Linked DNA regions of Homo sapiens. The protein of the gene in region 1 interacts with the protein of each later gene in a pairwise test. Each region holds a gene or a part of one and is shown on either strand. Other genes may lie near its edges.

Region 1 (5,203 bases):
CTCTCACAGCTTCACCTATGTGGACACACTAAAGGCTCTAAATGTTTTTTCCTACACTACTTCTTGTCTATGCTCTACCTACTGATAATTTTACCCATATGCACTTCAAATTCAACATCTTCAAAATCAAAATCATTCTTCTTCTTTTTTTTTTTTTTTTGGAGATGGAGTCTCACTCTGTTGCCCAGGCTGGAGTGCAATGGCGCGATCTTGGTTCACTGCAACTTCCGCCTCTCAGGTTCAAGCGATTCTCCTGCCTCAACCTCCCAAGTAGATGGGGTTTCACTGTGTTGCCCAGGCTGGTCTCAAACTCCTGAGCTCAGGCAATCCACCAGCCTCGGCCTCCCAAAGTGCTAGGATTACGGGCGTGAGCCACCGTGCCCGGCCCAAACTCATTCTTAATATCTCCCCAATCTCCTTTTCTTATGTCCACGAATAGGTTTAAATCCTTACCATCAATCCCAGACACCCCAATGCCTCCCTATCTTCTAGAAACGCCTTTCCTCCATCCTCACTTCTGTGCTTTACAACAGAACCCTGGCCTCTCTGACATGGATAGGCAGAGCCGCTTCCTGAATGCTCTTTATATTTGGTCTCTTTCTCCTGTACAGGTTTTTTTCTGCATTGCTTCAAGACTAATCTAAGATAAAAATCTACTCTCAAACATCGTAGCCATTAGGGAACTGCAAATTAAAACCACAATCAGATACCAGGCACATCTATAGGAATGGCTAAAATAAACATTATAACATTGAGTACTGGCAACAATGTGGAAAAACTGGATCATTGCTGGTGGGAATGTAAAATGGCACAGACACTCTGGGAAAGAGTACTGCAGTTTCTTACAAACTAAATATGCACTTACCATATGACCCAGCAAGCGCAGTCCTGGGCATTAATCCAGAGAAATAAAAGCTTATGTTCACACAAAATCCTGTAACTGAAGGTTCAGAGCACCTTTATGTATAATTGCCATTAACTGGAAATGACCCATATGTCCTTTAACAAATGAATGGTTAAAGAAGCTATGGTACATCTATAACACGGAATGCTACTCAGCAATACAAAGGAAAGAACTATTGATGCACACAACAAAATTAGATGGCTATCAAGGGAGTTCAGCTGAGTGAAAAAAGCAATCTCGAAAGGTTATATACTATATGATTCAATGTATATAGCATTCTTAAAATGACAAAATTACAGAAATGGAGAAAAGATTAGCAGTTGCCAGAGACTGGGGTTGAGGGGACATGACTGTGGCTATAAAAGGGTAACGAGAGATCCTTGTGATGGAACCTTTGCATCCTGACTGTGGAAGCGGTCACACAAATTTACACCTTTAAAAAATGCATAGAACACAACACACACACACACACACACACACACACACACAAATGAGTGCATATAAAACTGGTGAAATCCTAAAGTCAATGGATTGTATCAATGTCAATCATTATCCTGTTGTGATACTGGACTATAGTTATGCAAGATGTTACCACTGGGGGAAACTGGATGAAGAATATATAGGATCTCTATATTATTTTTTATAATTGCATGTAAATCTACAGTTAGCTCAAAATAAAAAGGTTTTTTTTTTTAATCTCATTAACTTCCAATAGTTCCCTAATGCCCACAGTGAAATATTTCTTAGCATGGCATGCAGAATTTCACCCGACCTATAATCTCTTTACACATCCTATGCCCTGAACAACTAGTTCTAAGAGCTAACATTTATTGAGCACTGGCCATGTGCCAGGTACCATTTTAAATATTTTATATGTATTATCTCATTTACTCCTCAGTGATCCCATGAGTCAGGTACTACTGTCAACCCCATTTTATATACAAATGACGTAAGTAGCTTATCCAAAGTCCCAATATGTCACACGCTCTTTCCATACCTTTGGGTCTGTACTTGTACCGCCTAAAAAGCCTCCCCACCTAATCACCCTTTAAGGCCCTGCCCCAATGTTACCTTCTGACTTTTTCCAGACTTAACTGTTACACTAAATGTGTCTAGCACTCAGATGTAATGGATAGATGTTTAATCAACATAAGGTCTAGACAAAAGGACATGAGGAAGTTATAAAACTGGCACCACGAGAAGCATTTGACACTGATTACATTAAGCCTGTTTCTCTGAAGTTAAACCTGAATGGAAAAGCATTCTATAATACACAGTAGGGTACAGAAAAGACTCATTAGCAAGAAAATGTTCATTAATAAAGCAATGGCTTTAACACAACCAAAGAGGGAAAGGTAGTATCAGGCTAAGGAAAGGCCAGTGTCAGCTGCAAAGTCCATTATCTTTCTCAAATTTTCACATAACAAATACACCAACAAAAACCTCAACTTCCTAAACCTAGTCCATTCTGCCTTATTAGGTACTTTTGTAAGAAAAGGTATAATGCTTTTTTTCCTCAGGAAAAAGAATATTTTCTCGAGGTAAAAACGCATCTTCATTATTTCCCTTGGAGGAAATTAGATTATTATCTAAAGACTGCTTAACTTATGAATTCGCTTGAAAAACATACTGATAATCCCACAACTATCTAGAATTGTTCTGAAATCTGAGTCTCTCCAAAGGATTCACATTTTATTTTATTTTTTATTTTTTTGGAGACGGAGTCTCACTCTGTTGCCCAGGCTGGAGTGCAGTGGCGTGATCTTGGCTCACTGCAACCTCTGCCTCCTGGATTCAAGCAATTCTCCTGCCTCCCTCCTGAGTAGCTGGGAGTACAGGTGCCCACCACCACACCTCACTAATTTTTGTATTTTTAGCAGAGACAGGGTTTCACCGTGTTGGCCAGGCTGGTCTCAAACTCCTGACCTCAAGTGACCCACCCACCTCAACCTCCCAAAGTGCTGGGATTACAAGCATGAGCCACTGTGCCTGGCCAGGTTCACATTTTAAACACACATGACAGAAAGTAGAAGAAAACACCAATTTTGTTTAGGTACATGAATGAAGCTTAATTGGCTTTATATTCCCTGTCATTGACCCCATGACCCCCTCCCCCTCAATAAGTTGTCTTCTGTTAAGTATAGCCTTTTCAGAAGGCACCAACATAGAATAAAAGTGAAAAAGAGGAGAATGCTCAGAACAGACCGGGTGAGAGGGTGACAGCCAGCCTCTCTTCCACTTATTGAGTGCTTACTATGGACCAGAGACTTATCAATAACCATAAATTCTTAACAGTAACCTAAAGCCAATAAAGAAAAACACATTTTTTTTTGAGACTGAGTCTCGCTCTATCGCCCAGGCTGGAGTGCAGTGGCATGATCCCAGCTCACTGCAACCTCCGCCTCTTGGGTTCAAGCGATTCTCGTGCCTCAGCCTCGCAAGTATCTGGGATTATAGGCGCCCGCCACCACGCCTGGCTAATTTTTGTACTTTTAGTAGAGACAGGTTTTCACCATGTTGGTCAGGCTGGTCTCGAACTCCTGACCTCAGATGATCCACCCGCCTCAGCCTCCCAAAGTGCTGGGTTTATAGGCGTGAGCCACCGCGCCCGGCCAAAAAATAAGTTTCTAAATTACCCATTATACGAAAAAAGATGTGTTTTAGTACAACAAGCAGGTAAGAGACTCTTAGGAAAGGAAACTGACCGGTCGAGTTCTCCTGAACTTGGAATCTTCACGGTCTCTGTGCGTCCCAGAAGTGCTGGTTCTCTCCCTCACACTTCTATACCCAGGACTGGGGATGATATACTCTTTTCCTATGTCGATATCCTTCATCTTCTCTGAGTGGAGGTTCCAGGGCTCACAGACTGTTAGTTTCACATCAGAATTCCTGAAATTAAAAATTCATCAAGAAATAGATTATTTCCTAAACAGTACTTAACCATAAGCTCAAGTGCCTTAAAAATAGGAAAAAAAAAAAAAAGGCAAAAGTACTAAAGCTTTCTACTGTTATAGCTACAAAAATTAATTTTCAAAAAAAGTTCAAAGATTTTGATTTCATTTTTTTAAAGAAAAAGATTCAGTATAAGAGAATCAAGAAAAATTACCTTCTCCCAACTCTAAGGGAAAAAAAATTAGAAACAGTAAACACACTAGTAAAGAGACACCCATTCTCTTCAACTAAGCTCAAATCCAGTGTATACAATAGAAAGGTTGGTTTTTTTTTTAAAGACTTTCTAGAAACAATTTCAGTTTGTCCCAAGTATTAAAAACTCCACAATTTTAAAGTGGACATCATTTCTTCTACTAAATTTTACTAAATAAAAACTTACCAAACACTTATTCTACCAATGATATATTCCATCTCTGCCTTTTTATAATTAACTAATGGGTTAGCTGGTGTTATTTTAAAGCTCCATGAAGTTATCCAGTTAAAACAATGTTATAACTTAACTTCAAACACAAATTCCCTGGGTACTGAAAATGTTCTAAAACTAGATAGTGGTAATGGTTGCACAATGCAGTGAATACATTGAAAAAAAACACACTGAATTTATACTTTAAAAGAGTGAATTTCATGTCATATAAATCCTATGGCAACAAAGCTGTTAGTAAAAAACAATAACAAAAACAAATTCTCCACCCTGTATTACTAAGTCTTACCTAGTTTTTACCTGAAACTCTATTCTAAACCACTGCTTGCCTGGCTAAGTCTAATCAATATGCTGTATCAACTCAGGTCACTTAAAAACAAAAAACACATACATACTTCTCCAAAATGTTTCCCCCCTCTAAGAAGGGTCACAGCCTCCCAGAGACAAGCTGAGAAAACACCTTTCATACTAGCCTCCAACGGAAATTAAAGACGTGTAGCCGTGTCGCCTTCTGGATTCCATAAATCCCTGGCTATCGCTGTGACTTAAAACTACTACTTCTGCAGCACAAAATTCTAACCATTATAATGCAATTTTTAAAGTGTCAGATAAAAAGAGAACACTTACTAATCCTCTGAATAAAAAGGACTAAATCTCCTATGCAAAGACAGGTTTCCAGTCCAAAGAAAGCTTGATTTCTTGCCTTTCAGAATTCTGGTTCAAGTACCCTAAGTTGATATAGCTGTTACTTATCTTTAAAAAAAAAAAAAAAGTCACCTTGTCCAATGACAAACTACACCATAAAGAACAGCGGCTCACCAAGCCAGAGTGCAGCAATCACGTCATTGAGACCTCATTAAGGCTAAACTATAAACAGACCTGGCATCTGCCAGTGTCCCCAGTGTTGAGCTGTAGCTGTAGATCAG
Region 2 (5,203 bases), on another chromosome or scaffold:
CAAGCAGAATAAGCCGATTTCACATTATGCAACTATAACTATCTGGCAGTCACAGGTTGAGGTATTATGTTGACAAAGAAACTCCACAGGTTTGATGGAAGAATGCTAAGGTCAATTAAAAATGCTTTTAAACACTTTGTAATTAAAATACGGGGTTACTTATTTCATATCCTATAAGTAAAAACTTCAAAAGCATCTGAATCAACAAAATCTAAAAAGTTTCTTCTCTTGTAGACATTTAAAAACACAGTCTCTTTTTATCTTCCATTTGCAGATACTAGTCATTTGATTGTGTACTGGAGAATCTGATACCTAGTCATGGAATTCACTGAACCGGCTAATGTTTTCGTGGCCGAGAGCAACATTAAGTCACTTGATACCTCAAGTGGCTTTATGCCGTCTACTGGGTTAAAAACACAAACTATGAAATCAGACTGCTGGGATTCAGATTCTAAGCTCTGCCACCCTGTAGTGCGTTATTTAAGCACTCTGTATCTTCATTTCTGCAACTGTATATTAGAGATCATAATAATATGCCTACCTCATCGTTGTTATTAAGAACTAATTCTTATTTAAAGCCCATAGAATAGGGCTTTATAGAATGATAGACATGTTCTATATCTGCATTGTCGAATTATCCATTAACCATTTGTGATTATGGGCTCTTGAAATGTGACTAATGCAACCAAGGAAATTACTTTTAACTTAATTAAATGTAAAAAGTCACATATGGCTAGTGGCTACTGTATTGGACAGCATAGTGTAGAACACTGTCTGGTATACAGTAAATATTATTCAGTGTTTGTTATTCTATTGTCTTGACAAAGATCTGCAAACTCAGTGTGGCAAATACTAGACCAAGAAGAATATGATCACTGTCTAAGAATTCCTTTAAGGCATTAAGGTACCATTTCAAGGGCAGGTTTAATTTTTTGTTTTACTTTTGACAGGAGGTAGGTGGCACTGGCAAACACACAAATGAGAAGTTAACATGTTTCCTGAAGAAGTGGGTAGTTGGGCTAAAAATGTACTTAAAAAAGGCATCTTCCTATTTACCACAAAGAATTGTGAGGAGAAAAGGATATAAAACTTACCTCCACTCAATGTCCCATGAGGATCAAACACATCACCTCCGAGAGTTACAGTTCTAGTCATTATCCTCTTATCAAAGGCCACTTTTTTGGCATTATCCATATTGTCACAAACAAATGTTGTTCCAAAGACAAACTCCATTGCTTTCTGAAGTTCTGGTTTATATTCAACCAAGGAAAGAGCCACATGAACGTTGTCAGGGCCAACCTGTGGGACAACAACAGATATGCCACAGTACATACTACTACTTTTCCTTTCAGATATGATTTTATAAACCAGTAAAAACTGCTGTAATAGAAACTTAAATAATACTTACCTAGCATTAAAACTCTTTCTGAATTTTCTAAAAAGCTATGTAAAACTCAAAGTTTCAGGAAAAAAAAACTGCAGGTTTAAATACTGAAAGATTTATTGCTAAGTAAAATATTTATTAATAGCTAGTATGGAGCATTATGAAAGTTTCTATCAATAAGGAGCCATTACCATGTTTCTAAGTGTCCTTCACCAACGTTGACTGGACACAACTTTAATTATAGTACAGATTGAGTATCCTTTATCCTAAATGCTTAGAACAGAAGTGTTTGTTTTCAGATTTTGGTATATTTGTATTACAGTGGTTGAACTTTCTAAATCCAAAATACTCCAATGAGCATTTTTTGGGTGTCATAGTTTTGAATTTTGGAAAATTTCAGTTGTTGGACTTGGAGTGCTTAACCTATAATTTCCAGATCAACACAACTATATGAAAATGTTGTTTCAATAATCAGGAATTTGATTTCACAACAAATATTTTCTCATACAAATGAAACATGCTAGAGCAGTCGTCTGCCAGTTACAGAAATGAAAACACAATAACTGAGAGTAAAAGTAATTTAAAAAATCCCCAGTCCTCTATTTTGATCACAATGCTTCTTCTCAGCCTTTGTTTATAGAGGCTACCTCTGCCCATCATTTAAGAAAAACTAAGCATCTCTTTTAGAGCTTAGTATCAGCAGTGGCAGTCACAATGAAGGAAGCTCTATGTAACACATGTTCAGTATTGTTCTTTGATGTGGCAGCTACCATCAAATAGGTTTGGCTAAAGGATTTGAGGCAAAGTATTTTTGCTGTTACTTGAAATCCCAATTTCCTTCTAATGCTGGGACTCGATGTATGGCTGAATTAACTTCCTGAGCCTTCTTGACTTAATGGTGAGTTTTCAAGTAAAGAAAGTACCAACCAAAAACATCACCTTTCAATTACTCAGCACTCATCCTCCCTCTCCTGATAGTATACATATCAACACAACTGTATTTTGAAATCATTTGCATTGAAATCTTCTGAATGTAACTAAGGATACAACAACATCCACTTAGTTACAAGTATATTTTTAAGTTTCATAGAAATGTCTTTTCAACTGATGTACTTGGAATGTCTGATCAATAAAAAAACTGATATTACAGCTGAATGTTATGACTGACTTCATGTTTTTACAGTATTACACAACTACAATAACTTTTAAATGTATTTCCTTGTACTAATCTATTTTCTTACTAGCAAGCATGTCACTTTAGATCAACGTCAGCAGTTGAATGGGATCCTGGTCACCTGCTATGTACCTGCACAGGCTGAATAGCAATCTAGAAGAACTCTAATAAAGAAGCATCACTGCAATACTAATGAAGGCCTTCCATAATGGCTGTGACTGTGGGCAGTTTTAGTATGCCTGACATAAAAAGAAACAAAAACAAAAACTTGAAGAATTTGGGGTACGTATCTAGAAGCTCAGTTCTAACCATTCAGGAATCAAGAGTGTAATTTTCACCATCACCTGATTGATAGTCATGTGACTTAAGGTTAAAAAGGACATTCTAATACCACAAAGTGAAGCATCAAAAGGAGTTCAAGTCTTCCAACATCTCTATTCTCTTATCATCTAATTGCACAAGCCAACCCAATTTTTTTGTATTTTAATTTTGTGGTTCTGCATATGATTATGTCCCTCAAAATTAATGTCTTCTAACTTAAAAAAACCACAGATGACGATTAAACATATAAATAAGACAAAATGAGACTTACAAGATTCTGAGCAACTCTCAGAGTTTCTGGTGCAATACATCTGGCTGAAATTTTATTGAGTGGAATTATAGTGTATCGACGTTTCAGTTCCCCCCTTTCTAGTAGCTTTTTACCAGTAACCTACAACACACATTTGAATTTAAAAAACGCATGTTAAAAATGACAGAAAATTGAGAGAATGCAAGTTTAGTAGTCTATAATAAATGAATGTTTAGTGCCATTTATCCCAATCAAGTTATAATTACATATGCAATGGAACATCATTTGAACTTGAAAAAGGAGATGCTGCCATTTGGGACAACATGAATAAACCCAGAGGACATGATGCTAAGTGACATAATCAGACGAAGAAAAAATAAAAAACTGTATGACCTCACTTGTACATGGAATCTTTTAAAAAAAAAAGCTGAACAAATAAAAAGAGTAGGATAGTGGTTATCAGGGATGAGGAGTGAAAGAAAATGGGTAGAAGTAGGTCATAGGTCAAAGGGTACATATTTGCAGTTGGGTAGGATAAATAAATCTACCTATTCAGAGATGTAATGTATAGCATGAGGACTATAATTAATACTATATACTGAAAATTTGCTAAGAGTAAATTTTAGGTGCTGTCACACACAAAAAAGGTAACTATGGAAGGTGAATGGCTATGTTAATATGTCTGACTACAATAATCATTTCACTATGTATATGTATCAAAACATCTTGTACGTTTGTTTTTTTCTTTTTTTTTTTGAGATACAGTCTTCCTCTGTTGCCCAGGCAGGAGCGCAGTGGTGCAATCTCAGCTTACCGCAGCTTACCGCAACCTCCACTTCCCAAGTTCAAGCAATTCTTGTGCCTCAGCCTCCAGAGTCGCTAGGACTCCAGGCGCACGCCACTACGCCTGGGTAACTTTTGTATTTTCAGTAGAGATGGGGTTTTGCCACGTTGCTGAGGCTGGTCTCGAGCTCCTGGGCTCAAATGATCTGCCCACCTCAGCCTCCCAAAGTGCTGGGATTACAGGTGTGAGCCACCATACCCAGGCTTCTTGTACATTTTAAATATATATATAAAATAAATTAAAAAAAAAACAAGGAAGTAAATTTGACAATGACTACGTAGCATTTACAGGAAAGAATATGAGCATTCTACAGAAGGATAATAAGTGAGAACTGAAGAAATGTAAATAAATTCAATGTTACCTTGATGGGAAGACTGACATCAAAAACAGGTCATTTATTCCCAGATTATTTTACAAATTAAATTCAACTTATACAGCAAAGAGATCCCAAAAGTTTAAGATTGGTAATATGCATTCTGAGTTTCTGAGTAAGCATGAGACCTCCTTTGGAATAGTTATCAAAAAGTTATGAACCAAATAGTTTTACCCTATAAATAAGTCACCTTAGGGGAGAGCCTTAAAACATCAAAGTATTTAATTCTTTTAGCAGCACATGACTTTTCAAGCTAACCAAATTTTAAATTTTTTAAAATTAAAATCAACTTACTTCTGTGTCTACTACAACATTGTAGAGTCGTTCTCCAGCCACTAATTCTAAAGCTGTGGTTGCAGAAGTGTCTTTCACACTAATCAGAGAAGCCACAAGTCCTTTCACACAATTTCTATTCCAGTTCTTCTCTGGATCCCTGAAATACAAAAGTTGACAAAAATTAATCTTAGATAATAAAGTAGAAAAAGTTATACTTTACTCATCAGGAGCTCTTTTGGACAACACATTAAAGTGAAATGAAAGTAGAATCAGCAAAATGGTTTTAACAAACCAAAAATTTTAAAATGTCCCAAATGACTAGCCAGCTGTTGTTTTTAAATCACAATAGATCTTTCAGTATGTTTCAATGTAGTAAGAACAACTCTGATGTTCTAATCCCTATAATACATATGATTACTGTAAATATTCCATAAAAAACCCACATAGCAAAACAAATTATAAGATGTAAATGTGGATATTTAACATTAATGATACAGTAACTCTGAAGACATTTTGAACTGAGATTAAATTTCCCTCATTTTAAGATTAGTGGCATCATTAGCCATTAAATTTCACAAGAA

What was found. Proteins that work in one complex are often made in the same cells at the same time.
Region 2: the proteins of ABCC5 (region 1) and SMC2 interact in a two-hybrid assay, tested with the Homo sapiens proteins (one large-scale study listed by BioGRID and IntAct).

Annotation. Positions count from the first base shown.
Region 1 is NC_000003.12:184,010,655-184,015,857, forward strand, and holds part of ABCC5 (ATP-binding cassette sub-family C member 5), read right to left. Parts: exon of another isoform or gene 4,905-5,203; intron 3,794-4,904; 5' UTR 3,739-3,793; coding exon 3,610-3,738; intron 766-3,609; exon of another isoform or gene 612-765; intron 1-611. UniProt on the Homo sapiens protein: ATP-dependent transporter of the ATP-binding cassette (ABC) family that actively extrudes physiological compounds, and xenobiotics from cells.
Region 2 is NC_000009.12:104,114,267-104,119,469, reverse strand, and holds part of SMC2 (structural maintenance of chromosomes protein 2), read right to left. Parts: intron 4,780-5,203; coding exon 4,641-4,779; intron 3,271-4,640; coding exon 3,151-3,270; intron 1,300-3,150; coding exon 1,095-1,299; intron 1-1,094. UniProt on the Homo sapiens protein: Central component of the condensin complex, a complex required for conversion of interphase chromatin into mitotic-like condense chromosomes.